Linked DNA regions of Homo sapiens: region 1 is linked to region 2. A link means that fine-mapping ties the variant in region 2 to the expression of a gene that starts in the linked region. Tissue or cell type: whole blood. Region 2 holds a variant in brackets; the other region holds the start of a gene. All regions are shown on one strand. Distances are between the middles of the regions. Region 1 holds the start of INPP4B (inositol polyphosphate-4-phosphatase type II B). Region 2 overlaps INPP4B (inositol polyphosphate-4-phosphatase type II B).

Evidence for each region. PIP is the estimated chance that this variant, and not a neighbour inherited with it, causes the effect.
Region 1: it holds the start of INPP4B, and the variant in region 2 is fine-mapped to the expression of INPP4B in whole blood (TOPMed, PIP above 0.99).

Annotation. Positions count from the first base shown.
Region 1 is chr4:142,842,930-142,851,647 of GRCh38, reverse strand. INPP4B (inositol polyphosphate-4-phosphatase type II B) reads left to right here and starts at 5,347. Exons shown (of 26, transcript NM_001101669.3): 1 at 5,347-5,439. The region is part of intron 3 of USP38-DT (USP38 divergent transcript); the gene reads left to right. It overlaps LOC124900788 (a long non-coding RNA gene), which reads right to left and starts at 174. Exons shown (of 2, transcript XR_007058286.1): 1 at 1-174. RefSeq lists an enhancer at 4,004-4,590.
Region 2 is chr4:142,696,203-142,704,525 of GRCh38, reverse strand. All of the region lies in intron 2 of INPP4B (inositol polyphosphate-4-phosphatase type II B), which reads left to right. Among named protein-coding and RNA genes, the nearest start is that of INPP4B, 150 kb to the left of the region's middle. The variant C/T (reference allele first, on the strand shown) is at 3,827.

The DNA.
Region 1 (8,718 bases), 150 kb before region 2:
TTTAAGTATTGCTGCCCCTCCCATTTTTCCTTCGCCTTTACTTCCAGGGGAGCTTGTTGGTCCAGGGGAGACTTACACAGCATCATGACACTGGGGGACATGTCTGTCATTTTCTGAAGAGCTGACTTGGCTTCCATTCTAGAGGTGTGAATGAAGATGGCATTACTCTAGTGCATAGCCACTGACTCTTCTGAGGTCATTGCCATGGCAATTGTAGCCACACCTTTATGTTTCCATAGACAGGCCACGCCCTTTCCTTGGCATTTAATCTGGTCGCCCTCCCAGGGGACCTCTTGGTGATTACCTGTCCTGCTGGCTGTCACTCCTGACTAACTTCCAGGCCTCCTATAGCCCAAAGGAACCACAGCCTCTTCCTCATCACTTAGGCAACAAAATCCCAGGGATCATTAGCCCTTTAGGATCTAGATAAGGCATGCTAGCATTTATATTCCCACTTTACACCCTTGCCTTCTTGATACTCCAAGGGGAAAACAGTACAAGTATTTACTCTTGGGTCCTCTTTACAGAAGGGAGAAATTTATATCCAAACTTCACCCCCAGACCCTTTCTGGAGTTTGTTGTAGTGCACATTTGTTATGGGCTGAATCTTGTCCCCCTCAAATTCATATGTTGAAGCCTTAGCACCCAGTATCTCAGAATATGACTGCATTTGGAGATAGGGCCTTTAAAAGACAATTAGATTAAAAGAGGCCATTAGGGCAGGCCCTAATCCAATCTGACTGGTGTCCTTATAAGAGGAGGAAATTTAGACGCACACAGACACCAGGGCTGCAAATGCACACAGGAAAGACCACCTGAGGACACAGCGAGACAGCAACATTTGCAAGCCAAGGAGACAGGCCTCAGAAACCAAACCTGCCTATTCCTCAGCCTTTGACTTACAGCCTCCTGAACTGTGAGAAATACATTTCTATTGTTTAAGCCACCAAACCTGTTGGTAAGAGGTTATGGCATCCCTAGTGGACGAATACAGCATTCCCCACATTATAACTCTCTCCCCTCCTTCTAAGAGCTCAGTCTTCATTTCCTACTACAGCTTATTTAGGACTCATTGGAGCAGGAGCTGGTGAAGAGGGAGCTAGTTCTCTGCATTCACATATGTCCCCCACCCCAACCCATTTTTTGGCTTGTACATACCGGGCATTTTGAAGGTTTTAAGAATCTGGAGTCTTTATTTCATTTGTTCAAATAACAATGACTGGGGGAAGACAAAAGCAATATAAAGTGTTAAGTTCCAGGTCTCAAATAAATATGTCATATAACATCCCATTGTAACTGTGTGTGTGCATGCTCATATTTTTCTGGGAAATGAGTCCACAGCTCTCCTCAAATTCTCCAATGGATTTATGACTGCAAAAATGTTAAGATTCACCACCCTATTATATTTGAAATGTGACTCATTTTCAAATATATGATTTACATACAATTTTACAAATATAACCACTATGCAAAGCGCAAGAGCCACGAATATTTATTTTCAATCAATGTAAAATTCTAGCACACTCATTTGTTTTATTTTAAAAATCTCTTATTTAATTTGCCATGAAAAAAGAAGCTAAAGTAAACTGTCTGTGAAAAACTTGATTTCTTTCTCATACTCACCCAGCCCCATGCCGAGAGATCATAAAATCATACTGCTACTTATACTGGGAACAGCTATCTTCGAGCACTACCAACAGTAAGAGGCATTCCATCTTATTCAATATTCAAACATGCATATGCATTAATACACCATAGACATTATTGCTTTTTTAATATTTCTTTTTCCTACTTTCTTTTGTCTTTTGTGTCAATGTTGATGAAACAACCAGGAATAGGAGATAGTAGTGGTCAGGAATGACCTGTATTCCTTCCCTCATTTTGGGAATTTTCATCCTTTTTCTTCTTCTTCAGCCTCCCACTATAATCTACCTAATTACTACAGTAGGTATGAAAATGTCACTTGATTACCATCCCTGGCCAAGGTTGTTGGCTGGGGTTTGGTAGCTGGAAGAATCACAGTACTTGGAGAATTTGGAACTGGTTCACAAGTTATAAAGTTTAAGAGTCGTTAGCCACCATGCAATTTAGTGCACACCAGAGAAGCAGAGAGTGAGACAATGTATGTGGGGAGAGAGAGAAAGAGGGAGAGAGATACAGAATGGGACAGTTAATGTAGTGGGGGAAAAGAGACAGAGAAAGTTCTAATGGCCTGTCTGTTTCCAGTCATTCCTAGTGCCCAGTTGCATTCTTGTTTTGGGGTTCCATGGGGCAGCCAAGTATCTTTACAATAATTTATCCTTTTTACTTTAGTTCTTATTTCTAACAACATCCCCCTTAATTTAAATACACACAGACATACACACACAATATACACACAAGAGATGATGCTAATGTATACATAACAAAGTTTCTGTAATTTTTAAGTTTTTAAAAATTGAGATGAAAACAAGGACTTACTTTACAAGTTATTGTTAACATAACTGAGTAAGCATTAAAAAACCTATATGATGCTTGGTGCTATATTCTAGAAGAGATTTTGAATAGTGAAGGATCATAAAAGTAGATATGATGTCATATTAATCTCACCTGAGATAAAAATCTAGAGGAACAATGAATCTATGGAGAGAGTGTAGGCTGCTTCACTGCAAAGGCGAGTGTGACACCAACCCTGTAGATCCTGGCTTGATTTTATTGCTTTAGACAGCAAGGTAACTACAGGGAATCACCTTTGACTTCTGGCCCTACAAAGATATTTCAAAAGGAAATGAAAAATATTTTGTCCTTCATTGGCAAATGGAGTTATGTTTTGGGGGTACAAGTCAGCAAAAGTTCAAGGTTTGTAAAAGTGAATGCTGAATGAGTTTATTAAACCACGGAAGCATCTGAATCCTCCAGGCTTATTCAAGGAAAAAGCCACCAAATAACTAAAAAAGGTAAATATCAGGATGATTGATGGATTTTTAAAAATGCCTTGTGGTACATGCATCTGATGGCATCCTGATTCATATTCTCTCTTTTCTGAGAATTCAAACTTCCTACGTGATGTACACAAGTAAGTCACATATTCTTCAGCCGCCCTGTAAAAGGACTTTGTCAGCATGGTCCATGTCTGGACTTTAATTATAATAGGGTCCTCTAAGCATCTCACTTTAAACGTCCATTTCCATAGAATCAGTAACTGCATTTATTTTACAACTCAGTCTTTTAGGAGGTATGGTTTGGTATTTCTGGCATTGCTGCTGTAGTCTTCATAAACACACACACGCACAGACACACACACACACACACTCTTCCACTTAGAGGACAGATATGTTAACCATATTTCCAATTTAGTAGCAAAGCTCTGACATCCTAATGTCCTGATATTATTTCAATCTCTCTCTATTGTGAGAAAAATCAGAAACTGCCCAGTGAGAAAGTTGTATCATCTTTCCAGCAGATCTCTATGAACACGGCTTACCCATTGCTTGGAGATGGGTGTGTTCAGTGCTGCCCCATGGAGGAGAAATCTAACTGTGTGAAGGCTTCTCAAAGCTGATCCACATCTTGACAGGGATTATTTGTTCCTCACTCTCCTATCTCTCTGCATTCAGCTCACTTGGGGTAGAGGCTGAGCATAGGAGAAAAAGCTTGAAGAGAAGCAAAAGGAAGGGCTTCGGGGGCGCCAAGCAGTTTCTGGCCTATAGTGTTTATTATTTGATTCTATAAACATTTATTGAAACTACAGAATATTAGGTATTGTCCCAAGCTCTGGGAGCAGAGTGATGAAAAAAATAAATGAAACGAACAAACAACTCCCCCCACCAAACAAAACAAAACAAAACAAAACAAAACAAACCCAAAGTCCCTGTCCTCATTGGCAAGGCTTATAATGTGGTGGTCAAAGGTTTGAGGAGTGAAAGGATGCCTAGATGCGGGCAGTGACAGCAGGGGTGACAGCTGGGGGTACATACAGCTTCCTGGTTTGTGAAACTGTTAAGCCCCGACTTAACCCAAATTGATTTCACTGTCCTGACTTTGAGATTCCAGTCTTTTTGCATGGCAAATGTAACACTTGTGTACAAGCATTCGTACACTGCTTTACTTAAAATGTGATTTTAAAGCGCCCTCAGGGAGAAGGGCTGGGGTGTCTTGATGGGCTGGCTCTGGGCACCTTTACCTTTGAACGGCTCCATCAAAACCTTTCCGAGAGAGCCGCCAGGTGGCACCTGTAAAGCGCAGATGGGGAGAGTCATTTGCCCCACACCCTACACAGCCCGGAATAACCAGGGTGCGTGCTTTCCCCTGTGGGCTTGTTAGGGGCTAGGAAGTGGGGGAGTTTTAGTCTCCGTCCAGACTGCTTGCTTACATACCCCGTTTTCCTGATACCCCAACACATTCAGGGCGGATTTGTCCCCACGCACCCGGGATATCAAAGGCATGTCATACGCTAGTTGGGAGCATCTCGGCCTCAGTCACCCGCCGCGACGTGGGAACTGGCGGTGGGTGGCCGAGGGCTGCTCTAAGCTGGTCTCCTCAGCCCGACCTCTGCCCGGGGCAAGGGGGAGGAGGGGCAAGAGACAGGGGTCCCAGCGCGGCTGCAGACTGGGGTCCAGCAGGCGTGAATGGATGCCTAGACGCAGGCAGTGACAGCAGGGATCCCAAGCCCCTTCCAAAAACCCTCGGTCTAGGGACTGCGCTGCCATAGGCCGGGGTCTGGGGCGCTTTCTTCCTCCCGCGGGTTCTTTCTCTGTGGTTTCTCCTGCCCCCGCAGCAGCGTGGCGGCCTCGGGTCCCCCCTCGTCGCGGTAGCGGTGATCCCACAGCCCAGTCTGGGTGGGCGACCCAGCGGGCAGAGGGGCCGCAGAAAGGGGTCGGGGTACGGGGTGTGAGCACACGGAGCCAGCGTGGTAATTTCGGGGTGGGCAGCCGGGCCACCATCTCCGCTCTATCAGTAGCGGGAAGCGAGCAGCGCCAGTTGCGCGACTGTCGCTGCCACGGCCGCCTCTACTCGGTCGCTGGTGACATTGGGAGGAGACCGCTTGGAGAGAGCAGAGGAGGAGGAAGAGGAGCGGGGAGGGTGGGGGTTGGGGTGGAAGAAAGTAGCAATTGTGCCAGGGGGCGTGTGAGCAGCCGGAGAGCCAGCCGCGCTGGTGACAACTTCTCTGGGGCGCGCGCGGGGCTGGTAGGCGAGGAGCGAGCAGGGAGCGCGGCCGAAGCCAGAGGCTGGGGGAGCTGCTGGAGCCTCGCGAAGCCGCGGCCGGCGCCCTGCGCCGTCGCCGCCGCCTGCTAGTTTCCTCCGGGTTCTCAGCCCCGGGTACTGAGGCTTCGGTCTATAAATAGCAGGTTACAGCTCCTCCTGGGCGCGCACACGCTCACACGCTCGCAAGCGAACGCAGGAAAGTCAGGCTAAAAGTGTCTGCTGCTGCTGCCGCCCCCCACTCCGCCTCCGGGAGAGGTAATTACCCGCCTGGGATCCTAGGGCTCGGTGGGGGAATTTTGCAGGGTGGGGTGGTTGATGGTGGGTAATCCGGGAGGCGAGGGAGCGTGTCTGAGAGCGTGGCGGCACGTCTTGGAGGGGGGAGCCTGTCTGTTTTGCATCAAGTTTCTCCGTCTTGCAGCCTCCATCACCCCTCCAGCTCTTTAGCTTAAAGGGTGGGGTGGGCTGTCTCTCCTCGGCTGCTGGGGTACCCCTGTCACCGCGCCTACCCTCTCGCCGAGCGCCCCTCTGCCCGGCGCGCGCGCGTTTTCGCATTCTCACTCACACACGCACACTCTCCGGGCCCCCGTGGAACTCTGAGCTCTGGCCTCGCTGACCTTCCAAGGCTGCGCCCACCTGCGCTGTCCCTGAGAGACGCTGAGGTTGGCCCGGGCACTCGCTCTCACTTCCAATCCTGATGATCGCAAGCTGCCGCCGCCGCCGCCGCCGCCGCCGCCGGCCTGGGAAGAAGTCCTTAAGGAATAGAGGCAGTGGTGGGGAGTGAGGGTGACTGATGTTGGTGGTCCCGGTTGCCTTGTTTTTTGTTTTAAAAATAAAGAGCCCATCTCCTTGACCACCTTCATCCCACCCTCAACAACTCATTCTGGCAGAGAAGCCTGGCATGTCTTCTCTCGGCCATCAGGCAGCATCTCTTGTCCTTCCCCAAAGAGGTCTCGCTGAGAGGTTAGGGCCTTGGCGCAAGAGTGCCTGGGTTTGGACGGGGGAGGTCATTGTTTCGGGTCTGAGAACTATGCTGCAGGCTCCTCAAGCTCTCTGGCGCTCAGGCAGGGCCCAGGGCCGGGGAATGTCTGGGAGCCTGGTTCCTGAATGTAGTTTCAGGCTGGTAGCTGATATGAAGATGAGGATGCTAGAACCACATATACCTGTTTTTCCCCCTCCCCACGCTTCTGAATTCTCCCTTCCTTGGGGGCAGTAGTTTCTGCTCCTGGGGAGTCGGTGGAGAGGGGCCCAGCAGTTTCTCTTTGGGGACAAGAGGGTGAGGAAGCACATATTGATTAGGTTGTTGCTGCTGCTGCACAAAACTTACTGGAAAAACCCGGTAGGGTTTTCTATTACTCTTGTTTTAAGGATGTAAATTTACTCCTTTTCCTCTTTTATCTTCTCCCTAACCAGAACTAGTTTTCCTTTCTCTTTCTGGAATGTTATTTGAGGTCATTATATTTTATGACTCCAGATGTTACATTTTGCATATCTCCTTCCTGTCAGTATGACAGACAGAACTTGTTTATAAAGGTGTGGCTCTGTAAGTAAAAGCCTAAAGACAGAGGATAAATTCATCTTCTCTCTCTCAAGATGAGCTCCAGATAGTTCTTTTATAGGTGTACAACTACATTTCAAAGACCTTGCTTGAAAAAGGACTTTTCTTAATGAGTTCTGGACCAGAAATGGTAGTAATCTGACTCAATGATAAAGCAGCGCATAAGGTGCAAGGAATCATCAACAGGGCAGCTGGCTGATGATGTGTAAGAAGTTGAGTAAAGCAAGGACTGGGCAAGTGGGCATTGTCAGTTCACATACTATGCACAGAAATGCATCCTCTCCTTTACGCATTGATGCACATACATGCATTATGTGTTCCTTTGTGATATAATCCTGTAAAGCATTGATAGGAAATGATCAATAGTTTTGTGAAAGGTACATGGGCATTGAAGGTTGAACCTCGTGAATTTGTAGTAATGTAAAATGCTATTGCAAAATGGATTGCTTTTTCAGTGTATTTCCTTAAAATGTGATGTAGAAGATTGTCCTTGAAAGGTTATGAAATGTGTGTGTGAAGATAGGCTAAATGCTCAGTGACATTAAGAAACATGTTTGCAGATTGAAATACTGCTCTTATTCTAGGAGAGTATTCTCTTTGATTAAGCAAATCAATATTTATTTGTGATAAAATAATGATCACTATGATGTGCATATTTATAACTCAAATTTGCTTTTGACTCTTTATAAAGTGTAAGAACAACCAGATAGACCATTTAGTCTTGTCCCTCTATTTAAAGTAGCATGCAGTCAAAGGTATAGGCAGAAAATACTTTTAAAATGTTGTGTTTGAGCTTCAGTTTGGGGCTGCAAATTGAATGACTTCATGTCTCATAAGATTTTTGTCAAAATACTAAATCGCTCTACTATCATAGACCATCAGTTAAACTTGATTATAAAATAATGCTATTATATTTTAGTTGTGTGAAATGGAAAATCATTAAGCTTAGGGAAAAGCCAGATATTTGTTCTAAATTGTGCAAATTGAAAGTAATTAATTCCTTTCTGAAACCTTGGAGCATCTTCTAGTATAAGTACTATAAATCCCCAGATGGGTAACAAAGTTAACTTTCACTACCTTGAGGGAGAACCCAAGATGACAATTCTCTGAAAGACAGAAAAAAAACCTGCTAACTGATCTTAAAACTCATAGCAACCAAATGAGTGGCAGTTTCTAGGTAAGTATTTGACATCTGAGAACAAAAAGTTAAGAAATTATGGAATCATAATTAGTGAGTAAAATGCTTACTGAATATCTATTACATTTTCTTATTTCATACTGAGTGATGCCCAGTAGTACTAATATTAGATATACAAATATCATACCTAATCTGTACAAAATAAATTTTTGTCTTTCACAACTATGGGGATTTTAATAGATAGAAATGCCCTGTTTTAAATAATCTCAAGTTAAATGTTCAGGTGAAAGCTGTGTGAGTCTCTTCTGTATTATGTACCTTAGTTTTTCAACATGTCCTGTATATCTTTCTAAAGCCTTAAGGAATCTTTTCCATAGGCCACTTTGTTAATACTTTTAAAAAATGTTGAGCTAGAAACCTTTGATTAGAGAGCTCTTTAGAGCATACTCTAATCATATATACTATAATATTTAGGCTTCAGAAATGAGATTATTAAATAATTTTAGTTTAAACATTTATTTTTAGATGAATCCAAGTGATGATGCTATGATTGAATTTTGTTGTGCAAGATACATGTAGTCTTTGTGTTCTAAAACTTTAGAGCAGTATATACCTAGAAAAGATCAGTATATACCTAGAAAAGACATTAAGATATGTGCAAAAATTTTAATTACTCTTTCAGTCTCAGGCACAATGGTCACTTGAATCAAACTGTGTTAGTTTATTTTTTTAAATATATTTTCACTACCTTGTAGATTAAAAGAAACATTTAAAATGTTTAGGAAATTTTATGGACTACATTATATATAATTTATATATGTATATTTATATATATCCAGTA
Region 2 (8,323 bases):
GTTTTGTGGCAAGAAGTTAAGGGAATCCTGCATAATGAAGGAATTCATTCTGTGAAGTCATAGAGGCCACACATGTCTTGTTTAGACAGGATTTAAATAAAGTTGATGTCTCAAGGGGTAGTTTTACCAAATTATATGTAATTCATATGTCATTGTACTCACCATTATATAACTCAATGCAATTAATTTTTATAGTAAATTCTTGTGGCAGAAGTTCTTTACTGATTTGTTGCTGAAAATTAGCTATCTCAAAATGTTTCCAATACGTTATTTATCAGTCTCACTCTGTGTCTCCCCTCTACCACCTCACCATCATGCCCCAGCTTGTTTTGTTTTGTTTTTAAAAGTTTTCTTCATACATGTTCTGGAACAAGTTCCTGTGGTTTGTTCATTCCGGCCTCCTTATCTTGCCATCCCGTTGCATCCTGTGTTGCTGGTGAGGCCTTGAGTCCTCTGCTCTGTGAAACACAGCTTCTTCTAATAGATATTCCTACCGACACACTCTCATTGGTTTTGGGGAGGTACCACCCCATTTTGCTTCTAAGGTCAGTCCTTGCTCCTGGCTAGTTAAGTGCCAGATTTTGGATACACCATCTCCTTCCACACTTTGAAGGTAATGTTCTCATACTGGGGTGCACCAAATGGTGGAGCTCCAGAAATCAGCCACTCTTCTGAGTTACTAGTCTGGTGCTGCTAGTTCACTTGTTTCCTGAGTTAGCCCCCTTTACCTACTGGAATGCATCTGGTCTTCTTTATGCTCCAGAGTTTGGTACCAATGCATTCTGCCCTCAGAGAGGAGCCCATTTTTATCCCAGGATGAACTAATTCTTTGGGGTACTAATAATTGCAACATTCATTCTTTCAGAAACGATGAGACATGCTGTAGTAAATTAAGCTGCCCCAGAGAAAACAAGCTTTTTATTTATATACCCATAAACATCAAACCCTATGTTCCAAACCTGCTAATTTGTTTAATGGGACTCCCTGGACTCATCACTAAATTTGGGAGCACATTTTTCTTTTATTCTCCTGAAGCTCTTGTTCTCTCTAGCCTTCTTAACAATCTGTTTAAGGCTGGCATTGTCATCTCTGCCCCTCATAATGTTCCTTTAATAGTACTTCTGCCATAATAGTATTGTGACCTAACCATTGAATCTAACTTGCTGCAGAATGTATTATCATTATTGTAAGGTATTTATCTTTTTAAAAATGGAAAACTATTTATTAATTTAAAATTCTGAGATTTCAAATACATACTTGTTATTTGTGAGAAAGTGGCTGTGTTTGGAAGGGCCAATACAACAAGTTGAGGACATTGTGAGAGTTTCATTTACATTAACTAATGGATAAAAATGGCCTTGAAAGACTCACAAAGAGGGCAGGAGAGAGAGTAACAGGTTCTGTACCAAGTTTTTTCACAATCTCTTCCTTTTAATCATTACATATTGTCTTCCTTTGGCAGGTGAGGAAATCGAGCTGATAGAAGTTAAGTAACTTGCACAAAATAACATGGCTACTAAGTTTCTGAGCCAAGCTTAAACTCACATCTTATTAATTCCAGAGCAAGTGCTCTAGATAAACTAGTTTTTCTTCAACATGATAGATATTAGCACTTGTTGATAAAAACATCTTCAATGTTATCTAACTTCAGATGTAGTCAGCAGCAAAATCACTAATGCTATGCAACCAAATTAGGGAAATTTTTTTTTGCAGAAATCAATCTTTATTTAAAAATGTTATAGTTTGTGAACCCAAAGTAAATTCAAAGTTCTTTTTTTTTTTTTTTTTTTTTTTTGAGACGGAGTTTTAATTTTGTTGCTCAGGCTGGAGTGCAATGGCGTGATCTCGGCTCACCGCAACCTCCGCCTCCCAGGTTCAAGTGATTCTCCTGCCTCAGCCTCCCGAGTAGCTGGGATTACAGGCATGCACCACCACGCCCAGCTAATTTTGTATTTCAATTTTAGTAGAGATGGGGTTTCTCCATTGTTGGTCAAGCTGGTCTCGAACTCCCAACCTCAGGTTATCTGCCCGCCTTGGCCTCCCAAATTGCTGGGAGTACAGGCGTGAGCCACCGCGCCTGGCCTCGAAGTTCATGCTTTAAATCATAATCTAGTGAAGAGATTTCTATTTTTATGTTTTTGCAATAAGTAATTAGGCTTTCTGGAATATGCTAAAGACTGGAATAAAGAAGAGTAGATGATTTTTAAGAGGGTCTCATCAACAAGAATTCTGTGAACCACACACAAGAAATCAACTTTACCCAGTGCCTATATGGAGTCTTTTGTGTCCAATTGTAACAAACAATTTGAACTTGAAAGAATGATTTTTTTTTTTTTAAAGAAACTACTAAAGCTTAAAGAGGACAAAGCCATGAAAGCACAGAAAAGATGACAGGGTCTGTGTGTGGGGTTACAAGCCAGGAAAACCTTGTATTGGTAAGACTGCTAACAGATTGCTCAGGCTCCTAACTTAGGCTTGACTTGGCTAAGCTTCAGTGTGAGTGGGAGCCTAACTCTTTCCAGTAGTCTGATTTCACCTAGTTCATTTTGTGTTGAACTCTCATAATATGTAATAAATGTGAGTACATTTTTAGTACTAGTATATATAGTATAGTAGACATCAAAATATCTAGAATATTTGAGTAAATACAAATATTTATTGTGTTCATTCAATTTTGAGAAACTTCTGTAGTTCACCTGTGTAGTCAACCTACCCAAGTGTCTATTTGATAGATGTCTAGAAGGGTTTATCACCTACAGTACCAGATTTTCAGGCTCTCCATAGTCGACTGTGTCCTCTGCACATCAAGGTAGAGGTACTAACTCCTTACTCCTGAGCTTGATTATAAGCAATGGTTCAGGAAGGTATCTAGTAGAAGAAATGGTCTTTCAAACTAGTGTTTAACAAAAAATTCTACAATTTCATATATATTAATATGTATTTGGTGAAATAGAAACAAGCCCAAACTGTTACCAAGACAAATCCCTTTTTCTTTCCATGAAACCTTTTTTTTTTTTTTGGCTGCTCGGTGCTGCTTGTTATTATTTTTCATTTTCAGCATGTATCTGATGATCATGCCAGCCTGATTGCACCAGTTAGAGTGTGGCTGCCCTTGACCTGATTGGATCCATGTGGCATTCCTTTAAGGAGCCTTAGAGTTGACCTTCCTCATTCTCCTGGCTATAATACATCATTTCCACCCTCTGTTTTGGGGCATCTCCTACTGTGGAGAGGCTGGCAGGAGGGAGTACCTACTAACCAGTATGGAGACCAAATGGGTGGGATATCCTCTCCTCTTTGGAACAGTCAGTGGTAATTATGACATACCTTGTTTACCACCTGCACTTTTCTGAAACTTTCAAGTAGAGGCTGCTCCAGGAGTGGCAAGCAGACCAGTTTGCTCTTGCCATATAAACTTTTCTGTGATTCCTACTTTCTTGGGGCTCCATTCCTCCCACCAGTTCCCCAAGACTGGCCTTCTAGCCTTTCATTAATGCTGTTATCTTTCCAATAAATTTTCTTATGGATTAAGGTAGCCAGAGCCTGTTTCTTTTGTTTTTGATCTATAGCCCTGACTGATACATGATCTTAACCATAATGTGTTCTGAGATAATAAATGTTTAAATCATCTGGGTATCAATATTTTATAATATTTTAGGTATAATATTATCTAATAATCCTTGGCCCAGATAGTTTTTATACTGAAAGCTGGTATAAAAATATAAATTCATTTCACTGATGCACAAACACAAAACCACACATAATTTCACAGAAAGGTCATGTGACCTACTTCTAAGAAAAGATTATAATCTGAGATAGGAAAATG[C/T]ACCTGCTGCAAAAAATAAAAAAAAAATTTCATGCAAATAAGACAGGGCAAAAATGAGTTAAAAATTGGGCAAGTGTACAATGACTAGCTGTTTTCTTAAATAAGATTGCTCTTTTCTTTCCCAAAAGATGGAATGAAGGGGTTAATAGAATTTAGAACAGATACTTTGAAGAAAAGAAGTAATTCTCTATCCTACGATGGAAATAAGTACAATTCTATAGGAATCTGATTGACTGGTTTCATCTTCAATTCCTATAGATTGAGTTGAAGGAATACAAGATACAGCACAAAAAAGAATTATAAAAACCATATTCAACTCAGTACTGTGAATTTATGGAAAAGAGAAGCCATAAAATGTGTCCAACTAGTGCTCTCATTATTTAAGTTAAATTTGGTGCCTTCATTGTAAATAATAAAAAGTTTATTATTACCCATATCCATGTATTGTTCAAATTCCTCATTTATTGTGACACTAGGTTTTTTTTCTCCCTGTTGCGGTTTTAGAAGATACTACTTGGCATCATCAGACTTTTGATAAAGTGATGAGTCCCAAAGCTTGATTGGAATGGTTTCAAGAAAGGATTGGAGAAGAAAATTTGAAAACCATGAGTATAGGCAAATCTAGTAAGATGCTTTACTATACAGGGAGAGAGAGAAAGAGGGTGGTTGCTGAATAAAATTTTTTTGTTTTGTTCTTTTAAGATGGGAGAAGTAATAGATTGTTTGTATGCTGATGAAAAAGAACTGGTGGAGAGGGGAAAACTGTAGAAAAAAAATGCTAAAATGATGCCCTTGAGTAGGCAAGAGGAGTTGAGATTTAGTATAAATTGGAGTTAGTTTTAGACAAATGCATATAGAGTTGACTCACAATGATGGAGAAGAGGCAAGATATACAAGTGCAGATGAGGTTGTTAAAAGGGTCTAGATATTGCATACCTTTTGATGGGAGCTTGCATATCTTCCAGTTGCTTATATTTTCTTACTGAAATAGGAAGCACAGTGTCAGAGAGACATAAAGATGGAGGGGGTGTCAGATGTTTAATAGGAGACAAAAGTATTTAATAGAATTTGAGGTATATGCATGAGTGAATGGATCAGGGATGTATAATATATTTGCCATTGAAGATAAAGATCATGGATATAAAGCAACGCTGGCCAGTATGGTTATGGGATTTTCTCCAGACACATTCAACCACACAGGTAAAAGGACAGAGTAGGTGGAGCTCTGTGATTTACCAAGCTCTGTGATTACCAAGCTCATGATTTTCCCAAGTGAGCATAATGAAGCACAAGAGAGTCATGGTAGTTTGAGGTATAAAGATATGGCTGAATGCAATAAACAACCATGACATTTAAGCTGGATAAGAATGGAAATGAGGACATGAGGAGGGAAGGTATATTGAAAAGGTGGTTGTACAATGGATTGTAGATGTCAGGGGCCAAGCTGAGCTGGAGAGAGCTGTGCTGTGCTACCATGCTTCAGAATAGCTGATTATGACAATAAACCACAATGAAATAGTGCTCTAACATTTAATCACTCACTGTGATAGTATAAGCAAGAAGCTAAACCAGAGAAAGTTCTGACCACTGTCTCTACCACTTCCCACTTCCACCCCACCCATGCACCACCTCTGTCCATTTTACCCGTGAAACAGTACTGGATATCTGAGGGTCAAGTGAATCAATACATGTGGGGAATTGCTTTACTGCTGAGGGAGTCTTGAACAAAAGTCTCCTTTAGTTTTATATACTAGGGGCCCAGGGAAAAGGGTGAAAAGGAAGGGGTAGGAGTAAAAAATTATTGAGCTAGAGTGGAGAAAAGTGTCTTCAAGGTTCCCCTTCAGCTCCTCCAAATGATAAGTTCTTAGCAGAGGTTCCTGAAGGCCTTCTTGCTGAGCTAAGAACACGGATATGCATAAGAGCATGGCCAGCCCTGGGGGCTTGAGTCTGTGACTGCAACTCCTTTCAGCAATGCACTAGCTGCACACCAAGTCTGGTATGAGGAAGGTAGTTCAGGTCTGCCAGGAAAAGTCTTTGTAACTGCCTGGGGTTAGGCCTGAAAGATCACAGTAGGTTTTTAGCCAAAACCCAGATTCCTCAGTAGACCCTGATGCAGCTTAAAGATTGTTGGACACAGAATGGGAGTTAGAAAAATTAGGAAATGAGATGCTTGTGATTGAGATCTGCAGAAAGTCCAGATATTGGTAGTGACAAGATCTAGGGTCTGGTAATGAAAATGAATAGTCCTAATAAAGTGGAGACAATCATTTAAGACAAAAGGCAAGATCATATCTGTGGATATTGAAATCTCAAATAGTTATGACAAGAATAACACTGGAAGGAGAAATGGTGACCTACCCTTTCAGTGCTAAGATTTAAAAATTAATCTCGTATGTCTTTTTTTCTATGAGAAATAATTTATGAAAACTCTATTGATTTCAAATCAATAAAAATGATGGATTTGTTTCAGAAAAAAATTGTTTATAACTTGTAAGATCTGTAACTTAATTGTTTTCTCTTACTGGTAAGGGCATGTTCATGCTAACAGTAGCCCTATAGCTGTGGTTACTTATCTTAATTACAGCCAAGATTTATTTCAGCTTGAGTGTTTTATAAGCAGATTAGAATTTTAAAATTTTCACAGCCAGTCTTCTTGCATTATACTCTTTTTAAATTCAAGCATGTTTCATATTATAAGAAGCTAACCTTAAATTATAGCCCTTGTTTTGTTAAATATTCAGTATTCTAGGAATTTGAAATTCTCAAATGTAGTCTTTAAAACTCTGAGTTTATCTGATAAGGATTTTATTATTATTGTTATTTACATATGAATACAGGAACAAAATGTGATTTAAGTAAGTCATGGCCTAGAAAGGGATTTGTAATGTCTTGGCCCTATTTAAGAACTTTTACCCATGCCTCATGTTCTAGGATTTCTACTTGATCCAGCTTGGAAATCTGAATAACTCATGATATTGGGAAATTTCCATGGCTGCATTTTCTTCAGTTCCTTGCTTGTAGCTCACCTTTGTCTCCTGTTTTTCTTGTAGGTTTCCAGTATATGCTTTGGCCATATAAAGTAATAAAGCAAATAAGTTCCTATCGTTTAATCATATAGAAAAGCCCAGCAAGAATCCATTGTCCAAATCTTGTTTGATTAAGATTGATTGACAGTTTTATGTAATTGGATGACATTTTTAAGAGAAAATCAACAGAACATTATCACATGGTTAAAGCCTACTGCCAGAAACAATAAACTTGGCTTACCTATTTCGTTAGAGTATTATTTTGATTTATTCACTCATGTATATAATTCACTTTCACAGTTGATCCCAGACTCTGTTTTTATGAATGGCAACTCAGAGAATTTAGGTAGCTTTTCTGGGAGCAAGGTTGATGGCATTGGTGTGGGTTGGGGAAAGCCTAACAGTATTAAAAGGGAGAATGATATAGAGGTTGTTCATCCCATGTTCAGTTACCGATGTGTTTTCACCAAAACCATATAATTTAAATGTCTCCTTTTCCTGGAAAATATGAAGCATTGTACAACAGGTAATTTTAATAACAATGTAACTTAGGCTGCTTATGATTGACATCAACATCACATGTATATAATATGATTGTAAGAATTTTTAAAAATGCATCATTGGGATAATAAACTGTAACTGACATCCTTTTAAACTAAAAGCAGGTGAAAGCTTGCCAGTGTTCCACTCTCTCTGACTTACCATTCTAAGAATAAACACATACAGTGGAGTGTGCGGGGCTGCACACTGTGGTTTTATCTACTTCCTTGCTAGAGGAAAGCACTGTTATAAAAACAAGTAAAACATGCAAAGGGAAGTAATTTAATAAGTAATTTTACAATAAAAGAATGGAACTATAAACCTGCTTTTCTTGGACAGCCTTGGTGTTATCCAATTTGCCCTCTTACTGAGCCTCTCTACTGGCTGGCTGTAAAGGACATGGTGAATTAGGATCAGAAGTCGATGGCTGTGTAGTGCCTGGTTTTGAAATGTTTGGAGAACAACATAAGTAGTAGCTGATGGCAAGGCAGAGGGACGCAGGGTTGAGTGGGCACTGCAGATGCCAGGATGACCCAGTTTAAGTGGGTGTAAGCAGTGAAGTAAGCAACAAAGTTGGGCAAGCACTGAAGGTGTAGTTTGTGTAGGAGACAGATGTCAGGGCTGGGGTGGGGAAAGGGAGTATCTGTACCACAGAATTACAGCCTGGGTCAGTTAGTGCCTTGCACTGATGTTTGTGTATATTTTGTCCCCTCAGCTAGATTTTATTACTCTTTGGGGGTGGTATCCTTGTTTATAATTGTTCCCTTGAGCTGCTGGGCACAGTTATGGAACAAGGTGGGTTGTTGCATGAGGATCTCTTGGAAAGTTCTCCTGGGGCTTTCTGGCCCCTTGAGGATGGTATAAATGCTAGTAGGACCAGGCACACTCTCTGTCTTATCAGACACATGGAAAAGGGCACAGAGGAAATGAT